Linked DNA regions of Homo sapiens: all the other regions are reported to be linked to region 1. The links are microRNA targets in miRTarBase. Many come from high-throughput screens and were not tested one by one. Region 1 holds a microRNA gene; each other region holds the end of a gene's coding sequence.

Region 1 (5,073 bases):
CCTATGACCAAGCACACAGATGTGAGTAATACTCCATGCCTACTCTGTCATGATTGTCGCTATACCTTTTACTGTGTGACACTCCTCTATTGGGGAATGCCAGATGCCACTTACCAGCTGTGACTCTGGCTTAGTCATTTAATCTCCAAACTGTGAAAGGAGGTAATCCCTACTTCATTGGTTTCTTGGGAAGATGAGAGGAAATGTGTAAAAGCAGCTAGCCCAAATGTTGGCATATAGTGTTCAGGTTTCTCCGTCTCCTTCACAGCTTCCTGTCAGCGTTTTTGAGTCTGTCATTGATATAATCAATGGAGAGGTAATACCCTACCCTTCAACCCTCAGATCCTGCTCTTGGCCTCTTTCCTGCTTTTGATTCTCCCTTTGTGGGTTACCTTGCCCTGTAGGCCACAATGCTGTTTGCTGAGCTGACCTACACTCTGGCCACAGAGGAAGCGGAACGCATTGGTGTAGACCACGTAGCCCGAATGACAGCAACAGGCAGTGGAGAGAACTCCACTGGTAATGGAGGGGATTCCTTGGAAGTGGGGTTGGAAGGTGTGGCCACATCCCGTCTCAACCTCCTCCTGTCCTCATCCCCTTGCAGTGGCTGAACACCTGATAGCACAGCACAGCGCCATCAAGATGCTGCACAGCCGCGTCAAGCTCATCTTGGAGTACGTCAAGGCCTCTGAAGCGGGTAGGACAGGGGCTTCCCTGGCATTCTTCCTCTCCCTCCTGGGGAAGTGACAGCATCCAAACTAATGTAGTCTCTTTTTGTGCCTTTAGGAGAGGTCCCCTTTAATCATGAGATCCTGCGGGAGGCCTATGCTCTGTGTCACTGTCTCCCGGTGCTCAGCACAGACAAGTTCAAGACAGATTTTTATGATGTGAGTGTAAAACCCGGATGGGGAGGCGGGGCTTATGCTGTCACTTTCACGTGCAGGACTGGGGACTGTTGTTCCCCGGGCATGCCACGAGGGATCCCGAGGAACTGGTCCTTTCTGTTCCCTCCCAGCAATGCAACGACGTGGGGCTCATGGCCTACCTCGGCACCATCACCAAAACGTGCAACACCATGAACCAGTTTGTGAACAAGTTCAATGTCCTCTACGACCGACAAGGCATCGGCAGGAGAATGCGCGGGCTCTTTTTCTGATGAGGGTACTTGAAGGGCTGATGGACAGGGGTCAGGCAACTATCCCAAAGGGGAGGGCACTACACTTCCTTGAGAGAAACCGCTGTCATTAATAAAAGGGGAGCAGCCCCTGAGCACCCCTGCTGGTGGCTCTGTCCTCTGTTAGGCACCACACTGGTTGGTCAACTTGGATGTTCATCGAGGCTCATTCTGGCCTTGCTCAGAAGCCCTTCTGATGCTCTTCAGTGAGGGAGGCACTACCATTTGAAGTGACCCCATGTCAGTCACATGGACTGGTCTTTAGCAAAGTCCAAGGCTGCCTGCTTCCACCTAAGTGGTCTCTGTTCTACACTTTAATGTCACCCTCTACATCATCTTACCTAGCCCACCCAACCTTATAAACATGATAATTGACTACTTTCCTGAGCTAAATTAACTTGTTTTTCACATACGCAAAAAAGAAGGGATAGTAAGCAGATTTTTATTAGAAAGAAGTCCAAGCCTTGATCCTGTGGGCACTGTGAATTACCAGGAGGGAGAGTTTCTCAATGACCGTTTACTACATATTTTGGAGAGGCAGCTAGGAAGTGGTCTAAAGGTTGGGATTGCTGTATGTGATCACTTGTGCTGATTTTCATCACCCGCTAACCAGAGCTTTAGAGTGGGAGTTGGGAACTAAGTAATGACCTGTCTGCTAGAAAAGGGGAAAAACCAAGAGACCCTGCATTTCATACTGGCGCCATATCCCCAGAGCCTGACTTGCACACAGGCAGTATAAGACCAAATAAGGGAGTCGGGGGGCTCAAAAAGTGGAGCCCCATCTTAAGTATCTCCAAACAGCAGGGACCGCTTAGTCCTTGCCGCATCCCCAGTGTCTATACTGGGGGCCTGGCAGGGAGATGCACTTTACTCAGGTAATTTACTGAGTGGATGAAATAGCATAAAAACGAACAGGAATCTAAAAAACGCACAAAACCCTGTTTTAATGGAAGTCAGGCCCAGGCTAGAAGATGACAATCTACAAACACTTTTATTAGCAAAAGGAGTAAGTGCAGCATGGGAGAAAGAGGGGCTCCTCCTTCCCCTCAAAGGCATCACTGCCCCTTCCCAAGGGGCAGGCCAGCAGGGAACAAGAGGACCCCAGGGTTGCAAGCAGGCTGGAATCAGACAAAAGTGATCCGTGTCCGGGAAGCATTGACCTGCCAGACATTGAGCTCCTCATATTCATCCAGAGCCGCCTGGAACTGGGCGGGTGTGAAGCCACGAGATACACAGCGCTGCTCTGCCTCAGAGAACCGGACACTTCGGCCCCCTGAGACCAGTTCACGGACGGTGGCAAATATCACATCTGCTGGTCTCTGAGTCCTGAAGGAAATGAGTGGGTGTGTAAGGTCAGGATACAAACAGGAATGCTCGACATCAACAGAGAACAATGGTGGCCAGTGTTAGAATTGAGGCCAACCTCAGACACATGGCCACAGAAGACAAAGTGACACAGCTTTGTCCTTCACTAAACCACTCACCTAGCTGTCTGCCCCTTGTCTCCTAGAAGAGAGTCCTTTGACATCTCCATTAGCCTGATGGCTTCATTCACATCTTCTTTCTCCACCACATCCACCATTCTCAGACGTGCCTAAGGGGAAGGTAGGGGGGAAAGATGGGAACGGGAGGAGGGCAGTGGAACGAGGTCAGGGGACACCCTTGTTCTGGCTTTAAGGCTGGGCAGCCCATGGGTCGCCTACTCACAAAACAGGAGTGGAATCCCCCCTCCCCCCAGCATCCGCAGTGTTGGGCCGGCACTGTCAGACCGAGACAAGTGCAATGCCCAGGGCAGCGTCCAGCAATTGCCCAAGTCTCCGCCTCTCAACACTGGCCAGTCCCGGAGTTCAGCTGTCCTGTGAGGGAGACCAGACCCTTTTGAACGCCACTGGGCTCCCCAGCATGACAGATGGAGCTTGGGGAGCTCAGCCAAGAAGACAATTGGCAGAGAGAACGTGTCCCGGGGGCTCGGGAAGTGCTAGCTCAGCAGTAGGTTGGGTAATCACACTACCTGCACGAACAGCACTTTGGAGCCCCCAGGACTGAGGTCCAAGACGGGAGGACAGAAAGGAAGGTCTGTAGCACAGGATCTAGGACACATGGAGTGAAACAGACCCCAACCACCCTCTCAGTGAAGGTTAAGAAGTGGGGAAAAGGCCTTTCCCTCCACGGACGCTGTGCGTGCCCTGCTGGAGCAGCAAGTACCCACAGTGCGGTAGCACGGAGAGGACCACTATCTGCACTGTCAGCACTTTAGCCCCGGCAGGGCTGGAGCGGGAGGTGGGGAGGCGGCAATGAGAGCACGGTAAGGAGCTACCCCTTTAAGGGTCAAAACAGATGGCCCTCCAGCAATTTGGGCACTTACCAGAGCAGTGGAAAGGCGCAGGATAGCCAGCAGGGTCCGGGCAGAAGTATAGGTGGCATCCTTACTAGCCCAAGCCTCTCGCCTCATCTCCACGTATGCTGCTGTGATGTAGTCAGCCAGAGACTCTGGCACCATGGGCTGCTTCTCGCGGCACATGGCTATGTAACGCCTGTGGGGGAAGGTTCATGGGGAAGCAGAAGAGGGAGATGGGGAAGGGAGTGAATATGAGCCCATGTTGTTTTCTGTACCAGGGCTCCCCATTTAACATGGTCCCCTCCAAGAATTTTAAGTGGAAAACACAAATTAGTGGGTGATTATTTGCTTGGCTTGAATATCACTGATGGATTTCACCAAACGTATAGCCCCCACCAGTATCCTCCAAGTTATTTCCTATTTTTTTCGGGAAAATGGCCTTTGTAAGACAAATCCGTCTGTCATTAAGAGAGGATCCAGACCCCTCCTCTGAGCGCATGACATGGCAAAACATATATTTTATTTAAAGAGAACTGTTTACAGAATATTTAAAAGGGAGTAAAAACCGGAAAGAACACTGGAGGCTCATGGGAAAATAGCGATAGAGATTATCATCCAGAATGCCTGGGAGCAGGTGTTTTAAACTTTAAATTTTGGAGTATTTGCATATGCATGAGATAGCTTGGGGATGGGACTCCAGTCTAAACATGAAATTCACCTGTATTTCATATACAACTGATACACATAACCTGAAGGTAATTTTATTAAAAATATTTTTGTGGGCCAGGAGCAGTGGTTCATGCCTGTAATCCCAGCACTTTGGGAGGCAGAGGTGGGCATCCTGGCCAACATGGTGAAACTGCTCTCTACTAAAATACAAAAAATTAACCAGGCGTGGTGGCGTGCGCCTGTAATCCCAGCTACTCAGGAGGCTGAGGCAGGAGAATCGCTTGAATCTGGGAGGCAGAGGTTGCAGAGAGCTGAGATCACTACACTCCAGCCTGGGTGACAGAGCAAGACTTCGTCTCAAAAAAAATAAATAGTGTAGGAAACAAAATTTCCTGTGTCCCTATGATATGAAGTGTGGAATTTTCCACTTAAAAGCTGATCTGAGGCTCTGGACATGTCTGTAGCGGGAAGTGGTGGTGTGAAAAACACACACCCTAAGACTAATAAGCACTTTTTCAGGAGGCTCGCACGGCCCACGCCAACGTTTGCCCACCCGCACCCAGCTCTCCTACCTCATGAGCTTCATGTCCAGAGGTTCAAACTGGGAGGGGGGCTGCCGGCTGTGCTGGTGCACATAGGTGATGTGCTGGGCCAACCTGGACAGAGGGAAGGTTAGAAGGAACACCCTTTTTAGGGCTACGCACCCATGTCCTCTTAGGTGTCCCTCCTTTGGCTCTGCCACTTCCTCACAGTGTAGGAGGGACAAGCTTTCCCGGGAAATCCTCATCAGCATTTCAGCCCCAACCCACCATTTCCCTGAGAACCATGGACCAGCCCCTGCTGCAAAGGGGAGGCTCTGGGGTTTCCAGGAGCGTGGAATTTGTTTTCTGAT
Region 2 (5,073 bases), not on the chromosome of region 1:
ATATTTTTCAGTATGGTGGTGATATTACCCGAAAAATGAAGCTTTTGAAGAGACAAGCAGAAGGGAAAAAAAAGCTGAGGAAAATTGGCAACGTTGAAGTTCCAAAAGATGCTTTTATAAAAGTTCTGAAAACACAATCTTCTAAATAATTGGTGGGAAAACAAAGAATTTTCATTGCAATTTGTAATATGCTGACAACAGAAAGAAAATTATAAAATTTGCTTGTTACTTTCAGGGTATTCAGGTTCAAATAACCTACTAGTCTTTCGTTGAAAGGGAGTAGTTAGTGGGTAGGCAAGAGCTTAGATTTTGAAGCCATGTTGCCTGTTCTCAAATATCTGTTCCAACCACTCACTAGTAAGGTGACCGTGGCCAGATTAACCTTTGTTTCCTCTTCAGTAAAATCGAGATTATACTACTACCTACATAAGTTGTTGTTGTGAAGATTAAATGAGGTAATACGTTAAATATTCAGAGGTGCAAGACACATAGTAAGCACTCAATTGTAACTACAGTTAAGTCCTTAAATGCCATCGAAAGGTTCTTAGAAACTGACTTTAAGCAAAATGACACGTAGCACAATGTTCTTGAATGATGTCATTTCCTTAAGTGGTTTGTAACATCGATGAGGAAAAAAAATTGGTTTATGCGTCATTTCATTTTATTTTTATTTATTTTTTGAGACAGAGTCTTGCCCTGTCGCCCAGGCTGGAGTGCAATGGCACAATCTCGACTCACTGCAACCTCTGCCTCCTGGGTTCAAGAGATTCTCCTGCCTCAGCCTCCATTACAGGCGTGCACCACCATGCTCGGCTAATTTTTTGTATCTTTAGTAGAGTCGGGGTTTCACCATGTTGGCCAGGCTGGTCTTGAACTCCTGACCTCGTGATCCACCCACCGTGGCCTCCCAAAGTGCTGATTACAGGTGTGAGCCACCATGCCCAGCCATGTCATTTCATTTAAAGTCACAATTTCCATGAATCTCAACAAGTGAGGACCTGCTATATTTTGTTGCATGCAGTTTTTCTTTACGGACACTAAAAGGCCCCATACTTAAGATTCCATCTACTTTAAGTTTAAAGGATTTTCAGAATCACCTTAAGTGTCAAATTTGTTAGCAGGATTAATTGATATGAATTCACTTATTAAACAGTAAACTCAAATAACATAGACATCAAATAACAGACATCTGCTCTAGTTAATGATAAAATGTTTATAGATTTTATCAGGTGGTTAGTTTGAAACTAAATGGTTTACATCTAAATTAAGGGCAGGAGCTGTCTTTCAGACATTCAAAACGCATTTGTGTAAAATGACAGGTGTTTGGTATTACCAGGAACTCATAATGACATTTTAATAATTATTGTCTAAATTTCATAATCGAAGCGATTTTAGAGTAGTTAACTTGAGATTTCACAGCCAGTAAATGGCTGTATTTCTCCAGAGCTCTCAGCTCCCATGTTTATTCAGCCAACGAACAAACCAGACTGCAGACTGTATTAGAGCAAGACAACATCATTTAGCCATTGATTTTTATCTTCTACCTTGAATGAATTGAATGAAGAAAATGTCTTTTAGGGATAAACACTATCAAGGATGAATTTTATACTAAGGTTATATGAAAGAAAAATCTCAAAACCACTAAGCCAAAGGGAAGTCAAGCTGGGAACTGATTGAGGCAAACCTGCCTCCCATTTTATTCCTAAATAAGACAGCCACAAAGATAAAATTTGCTCACAAGGGAATTCCTTATGGACAAAGAACTCAAAGTCTTCACATGAAACAAATGCATAAATGATTGCTTTCTCTGTTTCATGTTTCACTAAGCCAGATTAAGGTATAACTGACTATTCCTCTACTCTCCTCTCACATGTAAATTGTATATTCAGTGAAAGGCTAATCAGAAACTCAAAAAAATGCAACCCTTTCTCTCTTACCTGCCTATGCTTGAAGCCCCCGCCCCTCTTCAAGTTGTCCTGCCTTTCAAGACCAATGTACACCTTACACATACTGATTGATGTCTCATGTCTCTCTAAAATGTGTAAAACCAAGCTGTGCCCCAACCACCTTGGGCACATGTGGTGAGGACCTCCTGAGGCTGTGTCATGGGCACACCTTAACCCTGGGAAAATAAACTTTCTAAACTGACTTGAGAGCTGTCTCAGATATTTTGAGCTTACAGTTATTGTGAAATCATTTTAATTATAAATTAAGTGGAGATTTACTTAAAATCATGTGTAGAAGTAGCCTGTGATATAGTCCTAGATACATACATTATCATCTTATGTATCTTCCCTCCCTCTTCCAGGTTCTGATAAAAACAGATGAAATCTGAAAGACCATGACAGTAGTATTTTGAAAATGACAGTATTTGAAATTAAAAAATTGTAAAAGTGTTCTGTTCTATCACTGCCAAAGGATAAGTTACAAATTGGTTCTTGGAACGTAATATGTACTATGTGCTTGCTATTTAATAATTTACCAGTCTTAGTCTTTTTTATTCAGACTAATTTTACCTTTTTTTAACCTATGACTCTTTAGTTATAGTAGTACAAAAAAGTAGTTTTAGTTATAGTTTTAGTTGTAGTACAAAAAAGCATTTTCTGTAAGCTTAATTTCTTTCCCCTTCCCGCTTTCCCAGTCAGATGACTTTAGTGATTTGGAGTTGTGTGCTTTATAAGTGCATTCCTCAGAGGACTTAATATTACTAAGATTTTAGCAAACACTGAAATATGTTTAAACACTGTTATCAATATTAAAATAGCACCGTTTATTGACTTTAATATGTGACAACCACTGTGCTGAGCTATGTATGCTTCCCTTATTCAATCTATGTAAAAATTTTGGGGAAGTAGCTGAGACTTTTTTATTTCCCTGACAGAGCTGGGATTCAGTGGTTGGTTTCTTGAAAAAGCTAGGTTCTTTGCCTAACAGCAGCTTAGCTCCTCAATTTAGGGAATGAAAGCAGGAATGAAAATGGCCAGAGTTTTCGCTCCTCAGCTTGTGGAGGAGCTTGAGTACATGAACCTCAACTAAGCCCCTAACATCAAGGGAAGGAAAATGGAAAGGAGAATTTTTAGACCTTTAAAGCAGAGAAATTACTGGTGAATCATGTAGCACAACAGGTACCTTTAGCTTTTTCACTGTGATGCTGTATGACTTTCTAAGGTAGTCAGCATAGTTTGTAGTAAATGATTCTTATTACTGGAAGTGTAAGTGGAGTGTTACTCACTAGTTATTTAAAAAACATTTATAAGGCTATTAAAACATCATCTGGAATTAAAGCAGCATAATTTACCCCATCCCCCACTTTTAACCATAAAACCCTATTACCAATTTTATTTCATTAATTTATTTGCTATTTTAATATTTTAAGAAACTACATTTTAATCACATAGACAAGCAGATAAGTAAGGCTTCTTCTACCAGGTGGGCTTATGAAATGCAAAATAAGCAAAAGGAGCATTTTTTTGCTCCCCACAGAGGCAAAGACATCTTTTAACCTAACTCTCCTAATGCATGATGGTAACAAACCCAAAATGAATGCAGGTTCACATGTACTATAATTGTTGGGAGTCGAATGCATGTATTCTTCAGGTTCACTTCTGGAAATTTAGATAACTTATTTATTACACGCTTTATTTGAGTTAAAGATAAAAAACAATATACTTTTATGTAAATTGCTATGGCAATGTAGTTTACAGTAATTCCTTTTATATATACTTCGTATTATTCTTTTAGACATTTTATAAGGAATAAAGCTAATTGTATATTAAGTTTAACAATAATCAGAAAATATTCTCCAAAAGAATTTCCTGAAGTGGCTTGCTAGGTATAAAGCTCATAATTGTCAAGATACTTATATTAGGGACATGAACCCAAGTCGTTAAATAAAAATAAGATATTTGTAAAAAAGTGCTATAGAAGAAGGTGCACAAAAAACATGCACTTACACATACTTTCCAAAAGGATGTAAACTGTACTTTTAGGCACTGTCATCTCTTCAAATTTCCTTTACCAATGATATATAGCACAATTTTTGATGTCTAGATGGTGCTGTAGGAAGATGACTAAGGCAACCACGTGCAGAAAAGCATGTGTGTGATGCACAGAAAATATAAAGATTGCATTCCAAAAGTGAAGGTCTGCAATGATAGTTTGTTATCTGAAAGGTTTGGAGTGTCTTGTCATTAAAAAATGAAATATACGCCACTGGAGTCATATCACAAATGGTGCCTGATGTGGACACTCTACCTTTAAAATGACTTTTTAAACAGGCAGACATTTCTATGCTGTTTTATAGGTGGCTATGTGACTTCAGTACTTTATAATAAATAGCCAGTCAATCTTGAGAGCCAGCTACTTCTCTTAAACCCAAGTACAAGATATAAATATTCAAAATATGGAATGTTTAACATAGAGACTCGAATGAAAAAATGACAATCTTCAAAATTCCCCATGTTTTGTCATATTGCATAGCTGAAAATTCATCTACTACTTAGTAAAAAGTGCTCTGTTCATTCAAGCTGAATTTTGCTCCAGTCTCCTTCAGTTTCCATCTTTCATACTGAATAGTGGATCCACAAGTTTATTGTGCACATGCATTAGACCTTAAAGAAAAAAAGCACAGTTCTAGTTGTTTTTATTAATTTTGAACTATCTCATTTACTTTAGACAACAAAGTATTTTTTATAAGACACAGTAAGCCTGTTTAGTTCCCATCTTGATATAGTCAAGTTTATTGAAAAAGTACAAATAGAAATGTTTCAGAATGTCTTAAGTTTTATCTACCTAGCAAATACCAATTTATAATTATGTAACAGTGCAGATCTAGAATGTGTACAGGTACTTTGGGAGTAACCAGAAGAGCATTTCTTGTCTTCAAAGAGATTAAGCATGACAAATTTGAATACTGACTTAGATAATAGGTTTTAATTATATCTAAAAGTCTATGTTGATATTGATCCTCTGGCAGTTCCTCTACTAGACTCCAGCCAGGGGCTCAGAACTGCTGTCTCACTCTTAATACATTACCCTATCCATTCGTCTGGTAAATTACTTTCCAATAGTTTG
Region 3 (5,073 bases), not on the chromosome of region 1:
TGTTAATTAAAAATTCATCTATTCCCTTTCAAAAGTTTTGTATTTTTTACAGAATGGACACTATAGTTAGCATACTTAGGAGCTATCATGTCCACAAACCTTATTCAGATATGGTGACAACTCTATATTATATATAAAGATTCAAGGAAAAGTATATTTTAAAGGGTTTATTTATGTGTGCTGGTTGCAGAAAAGCTGAACGTTAGGTTAAGTACAAAGAATTTGTAGATTGCCTTCAGTTATATGATCAGAAGAGTCTGAAAATAATGAAAATTAAAGGTCAGATGTTTATGAATGTTCATCTATGCTTTATTTTCTAGGATAAATCTATAAGCACAAGTTTACCTGTCCTAGATTTAATAGATGCCATTGCACCAAATGCAGTTCGTCAAGAAATGATCAGGAGAGAAAACTTATCTGATGAGGACAAGCTGAACAATGCTAAGTAAGCCTTTATGGTTTATATTACAATACATGGCCCTTTAATTCTCTAAAATCCTTATAGGAAAAGTTACTATGCCCTTAAAATTCATATTTTTAAATATAACTTATATGTGAGTCTTAGATTTAAGACTCACAAACTTAACCTTTTCGTAAAACTAATCTTGTCAAAATATTTCACTCTTTTGTTAAAATATGTTAAGTGAAAACACAGTGGATAACACCAAGATATTTTTCTTGTCTCTTCAAGATACGCCATTTCAGTTGCTCGAAAGATCGGTGCCCGGATATATGCATTACCTGATGACCTCGTAGAAGTGAAACCAAAGATGGTTATGACGGTGTTTGCATGCTTAATGGGAAAAGGACTGAACAGAATAAAATAATCATTTCATATGATTTTCTGCCACATTAAACATATTGTATGCCTCACAGTTTACAGGATTCTGAAATGTAGTGGGTGTAAAACCAGAGATTATTTGTATGCTCAAAATAGTTATATATTCATTAATGAATTCAATATCCTGTTCATACTAGTTAGAGCTGGTCAGCCTTTTTGGGTAACACAGTTAATTTACCAACTGATACAGATAATAGAATATATTCATAATCAAGCTGATACTTCATGATTAAATTATTTTTGTTGCTTAAAAGTCGTATTAGACAAGACTAAATCATTCTTTTTTATGGTTCAAAAAAGATGAATACAAACGTTTTTGCAGGTTCTGCTGTGAAATGTGGTTTGATTTTTTTGGTGTGTTAATTTTGATCATAAATGCATTCATACTCATAATCCAGTTTAATCCTTTTATTTGCTTCCTCCAACTATTTAAAGTGGTCCAAAAACACTTTTCTGTAAGTTTCTATACTGTCTAAAACCTTATGGTGACCAGAATTGTTTATTAATATCAAACTTTTTTATATATGAGAACTAATTCTTGAATAAACCCCAAAGTTCACTCTCTTGTTTAAGTAGCAGCAGCTTTTTACTTAAAATTTAATTTTAACTACATTGATACTTTACACATCCTAGTTTGGTAACACAGCTTTAACTATGTCATGCAACATATATATGTTGGTAGGATGTTATTAGAGAGATATGTGTGCATATATATTTTTTTGCACCTGAATCACCCAGCTTTTCATAAGTGGTATGTTTAATTGGTCATTCAGCCAACCATCAGTATTTTCCCCCCACAACATGTGTAACACTTTTCAGTCTGTGGATATCTGATACATTAAGATTTCTTTTTATAAGTATTCATTTTGAATGTGCATATAGTTATTTGACCCCTTCCAAATACTTGTAGCCAAACATTGGCTAGAACATCCCAAGATATGCTGACACTGTCCTGTTAGCTTCATATTATACTTGCTAGTTTAGGTCTCTATAGAAGCCCTATATAATTTAGAATATGCCCACTGAATATCTTTAATAGAAAGTAACATAAAGCTAGTATTCAATGTAGAGTATTTTCATATGTTTTTCACAGCCCGTTACAAATTGGCAATGTTTGGTTAATGTTTGTATTACTTGGAAATCGCTACAGCTTGGACTATTTTTTTCTAAATTTTTAGCATTAGTCCATTTCTGCTGCTAACAATTGAATCCAGAAATCTACTTTCTCCATCTTCCACTGTTAGTGCCAGTGAGCAATACTGTTGTGCAACAAAAATGTCACTTTATCTCAGTGTGAATGAGTAGTCTAAATTCCCTTTCTACCATTGATTTAAATATATATATTGGTAAGAGAGACTGCCCATGTGTTTAGAATAGAATTTTTTAAATGAAATGATCAACAGGTGGAATTTGAAATATATTCTTCTACAAAAGAGATTTCTTTCCCTTTTATATTTTGATGATTGTTTTCTTAAGATTAAGATATGTTCTTGCTCTTTTATAAGATTATTTAAATTATGTTTCCCTCTGATTTTTTTTCACCATTGTATTTACTAAGTTATTGGATTTACATGAAATCTGGCACTTTAGGGTGTTCTTTTTCTCACAGAGTATATTTAATAAAAATGCTGTGTATATAGAAATGTGTTTATATTTATTTCATTTGAAGAAAAATATTCAGCCTTGAAAATTAGTCTAGCATAAGCTTATTTTCCAGAAAAGAAAAGAATTCCTAAATGAGTTAGTAAAACAAAAAAAAAATTGTGTCTGATTTCTTTGAAGATGAGGGTAGTTCTTTTGTTCTTAAATATGAAGAATTATTAAAAACCAACTGTGTGATTACTACAATTTAGTTTGTGCTGAAATAATTCAGGTGAATCAATCCATTCACAAATTTATCATTTATTATGATCCAGATACTATGCTAGACACTGGGGATTCATCTGAAAAAAATACAGATGAAGTCTCCTGACCTCATGTATCACATCCATGTATGATATCCTAGTAGAGAGACAATTCGTAAATAGGAATTTTAGACAGTGATAATGCAGTAGAAGAAATAACATAAGGTAATGTGATAGAGACTGACTTGGGAAATGGAGTGGAGATTATTTGTATTTGGGTGGTCAGGGAAGGTCTCTCTAAGGATATTTGTGCTATAAGTGTTCAGCAGAGAGAACAAATGTAAAGAACCTGAAGCAGGCAGTCCTGTAGGCATCCTAGAAGACAAACAGGTGAACATGACCTGAGAGTACTGAGGGAGAGGCAGAGTCTGGAGATGGAGATGGAGTCTAGGGTATTGTAGGACTAGATCTAAATCTGGATTTTTTTTTTTCTTCTCTGACTGGAGTCATGACTGCTCTTTTGTATATGTGGTTTGGGTAAGCTGCTTGAAGTAATATGCTGCTTCTGAATCTTGGATGCTACTGTTCATCATAACTCTGCCACTGGTCTCTGTATCACCTGTGTAGAAAAAACTGATGATAGGCTGCATAGATTATGTTAAAATACCCCAATTTATGCTGGATAAATAGTGTACCAGGCCAGGCACAGTAGCTCATGCCTATAATCTCAGCACTTCGGGAGGCCAAGGTGGGAGGACTGCTTGAGGCCAGGAGTTTGAGACCAACCTGGGCAACATAGACTCTTGCTACAAAATTTTATTTATTTATTGAGACGGAGTCTCTCTCTCTTGTCCAGGCTGGAGTGCAGTGGCACAATCTCGGCTCACTGCAACCTCTGCCTCCTGGGTTCAAGTGATTCTTGTGCCTCATCCTCCTGAGTAGCTGGGATTACAGATGTGTGTCACCATGCCTGGCTAATTTTTTTTTGTGTTTTTAGTAGAGACAGGGTTTCACCATGTTGGCCAGGCTGGTCTTGAACTCCTGACCTCAAGTGGTCTGCCCGCCTCGGCCTCCCAAGGTGCTAGGATTACAGGCATGAGCCACTGGGCCCAGTCCTCAATTTTTTTTTTTAATTAGATGGGTGTGGTGGTGTGCACCTGTAGTCCTAGCTACTCAGGAGGCTGAGGTGGGAGGATTGTTTGAGCCTGGGATTTCGACACTATGATGAGCTATGATTGCACCATTGCACTCCAGCCTGGGTGACACAGCAAGATGCTGTCTCTTAAAAACAACAAAAAGTGTATCAGAGAGGTAAGAGAGGATTTCTGCAGCTGAGATGATCCAAAAAGACTTGTGAAGAACAGGGTGCAGTTGCAACACTGGCTTAGTTTGAAGTAGGAACAGCACCCCCACCCCCAGCACTTTGAAAGGCCTCCTAGAATTATCTACCAAAGTAAGTTGGGATTCCCCAGTCTTAGAAATTAATCCAGCCCCTATGGGAGTCCTCTGGATAAAGAATCATCTAGGTCCAGCAACTTGCAAATGCCTCGGATTAAAGTGAAGCTATATCTACATCGCGCTCTATCTCGCTTGCTCTCCTGCTATATCACATGTGCGACATAGTTCTGAGCCATCTAAATTTTTTCCCTCAAACACGAAGTTTTGGGTACATCAGGGTTAGTGTTTTTCTGCTACTAACTAAAAATTGTGCTGCACTACAGAGAGTGTAAGCACACACGCATAAATACAAATATGTGCCACTGTTCACTGGCCACAAATTTACAGGAACAATCTTGACATTCCACCAAATAAACTTGGAACTGTATTAAACATTACAAAATGAGGAAGATTTACCATCTACTAGGGATAAGACAGAAAACAAACTCAATAGATTATCAACTGTTTTGAAGTAAATACATGAAAATGTTTGGAAAGACGGTCTGCTAAGGCCTCTTAGAAAAGACCTAACAAAGACTTTGAATTATGAGAAAGTTGTATTTAGGAAATTTTGGGAGTTAACGTGCTGGCTGAGACAGGGATGGAACATACCAGCCTGAACAGGATAGGGAGTATTTCCTCCAAATATAAGATACTCTGAAGTAAATTTATGTATTCTTTTAAAAACCTAAAACTTTAAAGGCACAATTTAGAGTTTTCTATATGATTATGGGAAGCAACAGGAATTATTCAAGAGGCGGAATTTCCAGTTTCTCCTCCATTACCTTTTAAAAGCAGAAGACAACAGCAACTCTATAATGGTTATAATACTTTAAAAGTTTGGTTAAAAATAAATTATTTGGCAGGGTATGATGACTCATGCCTGTAATTCCAGCACTTTGGGAGGCCAAGGTGGGCGGTGGCACTTGAACCTAGGAGTTCAAAGGCCAG
Region 4 (5,073 bases), not on the chromosome of region 1:
TTTCATGATTTTACTTTTGCTTATATGCATAATAGGGCATTTGCTACCCTGACATCCACTGTTCATTTCTTTCTTTTTAGCTTCTATTTTTATATTTAACTTTATTTAGTGGGAATGTACTTAGGCATAAAGTAGGAATATTAAACATCCTCTCACCCTCCATTATGTAGTTAGCCAGTTTTATGAAGACCATTTATTAATAAATATTTTTCTGTATTTCATTTGAAATGCCATCTTTATCATATGCTACATTTTAATACAATATATCCTCTATCTCAAAAGTGTATTTTTTTTGTTATTGTTTAAGTTTCTGACATTGGCATTTATCAGTCACTAGAGAAGAGATGTATCATAGTTGGCATGGGCTGTGCATGGGAGAACTTAGATGGCTGAGGTCACTACAGAGGAGGACTGTTATTTGAATTATTGGGACCATGTATAGTCAAAGTTTATTTATTTCTTTATTTTTATTTTTTTGAGATGGAGTCTCACTCTGTCACCTAGGCTGGAGTGTAGTGTCACTATCTGGGCTAACTGCAATCTCTGCCTCCCGGGTTCACGCGAGTCTCCTGCCTCAGCCTCCTGATTAGAGGAGCCCGCCACTGCGCCCGGCTAATTTTGGTATTTTTAGTAGAGACGGGGTTTCACCATGTTGGCCAGGCTGGTCTCGAACTCCTGACCTCAGGTGATCTGCCCGCCTCAGCCTCCCAAAGTGCTGAGATTACAGGTGTGAGCCACTGCGCCCGGCAGTTTAATTTTATTTGGATCTTGTCTTGGGTCTCTTTAGTGTTGCCATAAAGGAATACCTGAGGCTGGGTATTTTATAAACAAAAGAGATTTATTTGGCTCATCGTTCTGTAGGCTGCACAAAAAGCACGGTGCCAGCATCTGCTTCTGGCCAGGGACTCAGGCTGCTTCTACTCATGGTGGAATGTGAAGGGGAGCTGGCATTTGCAGATCATGTGGTGAGAGAGAAAACAAGAAAGAGATGGGGAGATGCTAGGCTTTTTAACAAGCAGTTCTCATGGGAACCAAGAGAACTTATTTACTCCTGGGAGAATGTCACCAAGCCATTCATGGGGGATCTGTTCCCAAATTTCTCCCATCTGGCCCCACCTCCAATATTGGGCATCAAATTTCAACATAAGATTTGGTGGCATGAAAAACAAATCTCATGTCTTTCTTGCATTGCAAAATACAATTATTCCATCCCCCAAAGTCTTAACTTGTTCCAGCATCAACTCAAAAGTCTAAAGTCTCATTTGAGACTCAAGGCAAGTTCCTTACAACTGTGAACCTGTAAAATAAAAAAAGAAGTTATTTACTTCCAAGATACAGTGGTGGTGCAGACATTCCCATTCCAAAAGGGAGGAATAGGCCAGAAGAAAGGGGTAATAGGCCTCATGTGAGTCCCAAACCTATCAGGACAGATATTAAATATTAAAGCTCCAAAATAATCTGCTTTGACTCCATGTCCCGCATCCTAAGAACACTGGTTCAAGGGGTGGGTTCCAGAGCCTCAGGCATCCCCATCCCCATGGCTTTGCTGGGTGCAGCCCACGTAGCTGCTCTCGTGGGTTGGAATCCAATACCTGCAGCTCTTCCAGGCTGAGATTGTAAGCTGTTGGTGGCTCTACCATTCTGAGGTTGGAGAGTGGTGCCCCTGCTCCATCTGCTCCACTAGGCACTTCTCTAGTAGAGGCTCTCAGACCCTGTGGCAGCCTTCTTTCTGGGCACCCAGGCTTTCTAATACATCCTCTCAAATGTAAGTGGAAGCTGCCAAGTCTCCACTACTCTTGCATTCTGCATGCTTGCAGACTTAACACCACATGGAAGTCTCCAAGGCTTACTGGGTACACCTTCCAGAGCAGCAGCCTGAGGCCCTTTGAGCTGGTGCCGCTGGGGTGTGGGGAGCAGTATCACCTGCCCCATCAAAAAGCCATTCTTTCATTCTAAACTTCTTAATCTGTGATGGGAGGGGTGGCAAAGATTTCTGAAATAGCTTTGAGACATTTTTTCCATAGTCTTATTAGCACCTGGCCCTTTTTAGTCATGCTCATCTCTTTAGCAAACTATTGCTGCTGCTTGGTCATACTCTTAGATTCCTCTCCTAAAAACACTCTTCTTTCCTTCTCTAACACAAGGCAAGGCTGCACATTTTCCAATTTTCCTCTGGTCTCTACTGTAAGCAGTTAGAAGTAACCATGCAGCAGCCTGAGCACTTTGCTGGTTAGAAATTTCTTTTCCCAGATACCCTAGGCCATCTCTTAAATGAAGCCTTCCATAAAGCCCTAGAGCATGGACACAATGCAGACAAGTTCTTTGCTACGGTGTAACAAGTGTGACTTTTGCTTCAGTAACTTATAAGTTCATCATTTCCATCTAAGGCTTCCTCAGTATGACCTTTGCTGTCTCTTTTTCTATAAGCATTTTGGTACACAACTACTTAACCAATCTCTAAGAAGTTCTACACTTTCCCTTGTCTTCCCTGTTTTCTCCTGAACCCTCCAAACTCTTCCAACCTCTGCCTATTACCCAGTTCAAAAGCTACTCCCACATTTTCAGGCATCTTTAGAGCAATGCCTCACTCCTGAATACCAATTTTCTTAGTATGTTTAGTGTTGCTATAAAGGAATATTTAAGGCTGGGTAATTTATTAATGAAGAGATTTGGCTCATGTTTCTGCAGGCTGTACAAGAAGCATGGCACCAGCATCTATGGCACCACGCCATTCATGAGCGATCCACGCCATGATCTAAACAACTCCCACCAGGCCCCGCTTCCAATATTGGGGATCAAATTTCAACATGAGGTTGGTGGGGCCAAATAAACCCTAGGCAAACCATAACAGATCTGTAATTAATTCTTAAATTCTTTCCAAAGAGTACACCAAAATGCAGTCTTATTTAAAGAAAATACTGTGTATGTTTTGGATTGGATGCTACCTACCAGAAGATATTGTAGATCTCTTAAAGTTAGATTATAAACTCTTCAAAGCTACAAGAGTAGTATGGCCAGTTCACACAGGGTGAAGAACTGTATCACTCAGCAACAATGGTAAGTTAAAATCCCAGTTAACTATCAGTTATCTGTTAAACAGATGCCCTGAGAGAAATGGCATACATAATTCCTCCCCCACCACCAAAAGCTACTATAACATTAGTGTTAAAAATCACTGAGTTAGGGCTCTACTACTCATTCTAAAAACATGAAGCTTTAAGTTTCCAAGTGAAGGGTTTTTAAGACATTTTGTAATAATCTTTACTTTTAGTCACTTTGCCAGGTTTTTCTTTGAGATTTTATTTTCCTCCAAAATCTATTAATAGGCCTTCTTTACCATTATTCCTATGAGGATATTGCTTGTGACCCTTTTCTTGAGCTGCCCCAGGGTCCTCATGTGTGATCTCCTCACTACACTGAAAACCCAACTTGTTTAACTACAGGTTTGTTGCCAGTGGTCTCTGCCTGAAGGGTGTTAACAGAATTATGGCATCTCCCAAATTAACTGATATTATAGGTCACATAAAAAAGTAATTGCAGTCATTTTATTTTACAGACTAAAAAAAAAAAAAAAAACCCAAGACAGTATACTGTAGTTTGTTAGAAATAATTTTTTATACACTAGGTTATAACTTATTCACATATATAAGCTTATTATCATAATAAGAAAAGGTTTATATATTTTGGGTTTTCTTGTTTTAATAAAATAAATGTGCTAAGGTTCCTTTTTAATACTTTTTGGGAATATGTTTTGATGACAGTAGAAAATATTCAACATTAATTCACTAAACAACCAAAGAAGTAAAATTTTGATACTACCTCCAAAGTTAAAGATAGCAGGCATATCTTAACTACTTCCCAAAAAGACTAGGGAGTTAGGTAAAAGAGTGAAGGCATTTGAGGATTTTTCAAGTTCCAGATGACCAGACAGAAACTGTAAGCCATTGGCTACAGAATGAATGATAGCAAACACTAAGGTTTTTATGCACTAGACAGTGTATGTAAACACTTACTTATCACAGCTCCTGATATGAGCTGTTAACCAATAAATGAGTTCCATTCAGGCATTATAAACTACTAGATCCTTAAGGCAATTCCTATTTTATGGTTTTAGGCAAATACTTATAGATACAGCAATATAAATGTTAGTTTCCTAGATTTGGCAACTGCTAAAAACAGTCTTCAGAACTACATTAGATGCTAATGATAGAACTACAAAGACTAATTTTAAAGTGCATATCAGGAGATAATAAATCCTGCAGAAGCCTTAGCCTCTGTACATATAATCATAGGTTAACAGTTTTACAAATTCACGAACATTAAATTAATATGGAACAATCTAAAAAAAAAACACTCTTTAAGATGCATCCAGTTTCTTATAGGCTTCTTCAATGAAGGTTGACATGCTCTTCATCTGTGATGAATTATGAAGAATATCCAAGTCCTTTAGAAGAGCATTCTGGTTTGGAATTAGCGCCAAAATTTCTTTCTGTGGGAAAGATAGTATTAAATGTAGTTGTTAACATTTTATTATGAGAAATCTCAAATGTATGTTAGAGAGAACAGTAAAATAAACCTTAAGTATCTATCATCCAACTTCAATAATTGTCAACGAATCGCCATTCTTCTTTCAAATCTATCTCTCCCTCTCCCCATCCTGCTCCTTTCACCACTGGTAAATGATAGGATTTGTTTGTTTGTTTGTTTTTGTTTTTTTGAGGTGGAGTTTTGCTCTTCTTGCCCAGGCTGGAGTACAATGGCGCAGTCCTGGCTCACTGCAACCTCCAGCTCCCAGGTTCAAGCAATTCTCCTGCCTCAGCCTCCCGAATAGCTGGGATTACAGGCATGTGCCACCACACCTGGCTAATTTTGTATTTTTAGTAGAGATGGGGTTTCTCCATGTTGGTCAGGCTGTTCTCGAACTCCTGACCTCAGGCAATCCGCCTGCCTTGGCCTCCCAAAGTGCTGGGATTACAGGTGTGAGCCACTGTGCCCAGCCAATAGGAAAATTTCAAATTACTTCTTGAGAAAACATGAAGACTTTCCAATGCTACAAACATTTATACTACAATG

Evidence for each region. Region 1 holds the annotated microRNA hsa-miR-106b-5p (UAAAGUGCUGACAGUGCAGAU, at 3,410-3,430, opposite strand). A microRNA usually pairs through its seed, bases 2 to 8, with sites in the 3' UTR of a target mRNA and lowers its output. Matches are read on the target gene's strand: a 7mer-m8 pairs with bases 2 to 8, a 7mer-A1 pairs with bases 2 to 7 and ends in A, and an 8mer does both.
Region 2: miRTarBase lists GNPDA2 as a target of hsa-miR-106b-5p. Seed matches in the 3' UTR shown: 7mer-m8 at 4,506-4,512 and 7mer-m8 at 3,913-3,919.
Region 3: the mRNA of PLS1 is a reported target of hsa-miR-106b-5p. Seed matches in the 3' UTR shown: 7mer-A1 at 2,121-2,127 and 8mer at 2,423-2,430.
Region 4: miRTarBase lists CENPQ as a target of hsa-miR-106b-5p. Seed matches in the 3' UTR shown: 8mer at 4,229-4,236.

The regions. Positions count from the first base shown.
Region 1 is chr7:100,090,634-100,095,706 of GRCh38, forward strand. It overlaps MIR106B (microRNA 106b), which reads right to left and starts at 3,441; the gene lies at 3,360-3,441. COPS6 (COP9 signalosome subunit 6) reads left to right here. Exons shown (of 10, transcript NM_006833.5): 5 at 1-21; 6 at 269-316; 7 at 405-519; 8 at 605-697; 9 at 787-887; 10 at 1,016-1,554. The coding sequence ends at 1,156. MCM7 (minichromosome maintenance complex component 7) reads right to left here. Exons shown (of 15, transcript NM_005916.5): 12 at 4,754-4,837; 13 at 3,540-3,708; 14 at 2,659-2,768; 15 at 2,095-2,500. The coding sequence ends at 2,299. It overlaps MIR25 (microRNA 25), which reads right to left and starts at 3,010; the gene lies at 2,927-3,010. It also overlaps MIR93. RefSeq lists enhancers at 793-1,087, 4,868-5,073.
Region 2 is chr4:44,698,533-44,703,605 of GRCh38, forward strand. It overlaps GNPDA2 (glucosamine-6-phosphate deaminase 2), which reads right to left. Exons shown (of 7, transcript NM_138335.3): 7 at 3,263-4,610. The coding sequence ends at 4,549. GUF1 (GTP binding elongation factor GUF1) reads left to right here. Exons shown (of 17, transcript NM_021927.3): 17 at 12-2,396. The coding sequence ends at 149. Among named protein-coding and RNA genes, the nearest start is that of GUF1, 23 kb to the left of the region's middle.
Region 3 is chr3:142,711,181-142,716,253 of GRCh38, forward strand. It overlaps PLS1 (plastin 1), which reads left to right. Exons shown (of 16, transcript NM_001145319.2): 15 at 321-445; 16 at 692-2,484. The coding sequence ends at 827. Among named protein-coding and RNA genes, the nearest start is that of TRPC1, 10 kb to the right of the region's middle.
Region 4 is chr6:49,491,560-49,496,632 of GRCh38, reverse strand. CENPQ (centromere protein Q) reads right to left here. Exons shown (of 9, transcript NM_018132.4): 9 at 3,526-4,489. The coding sequence ends at 4,358. Among named protein-coding and RNA genes, the nearest start is that of GLYATL3, 5.8 kb to the left of the region's middle.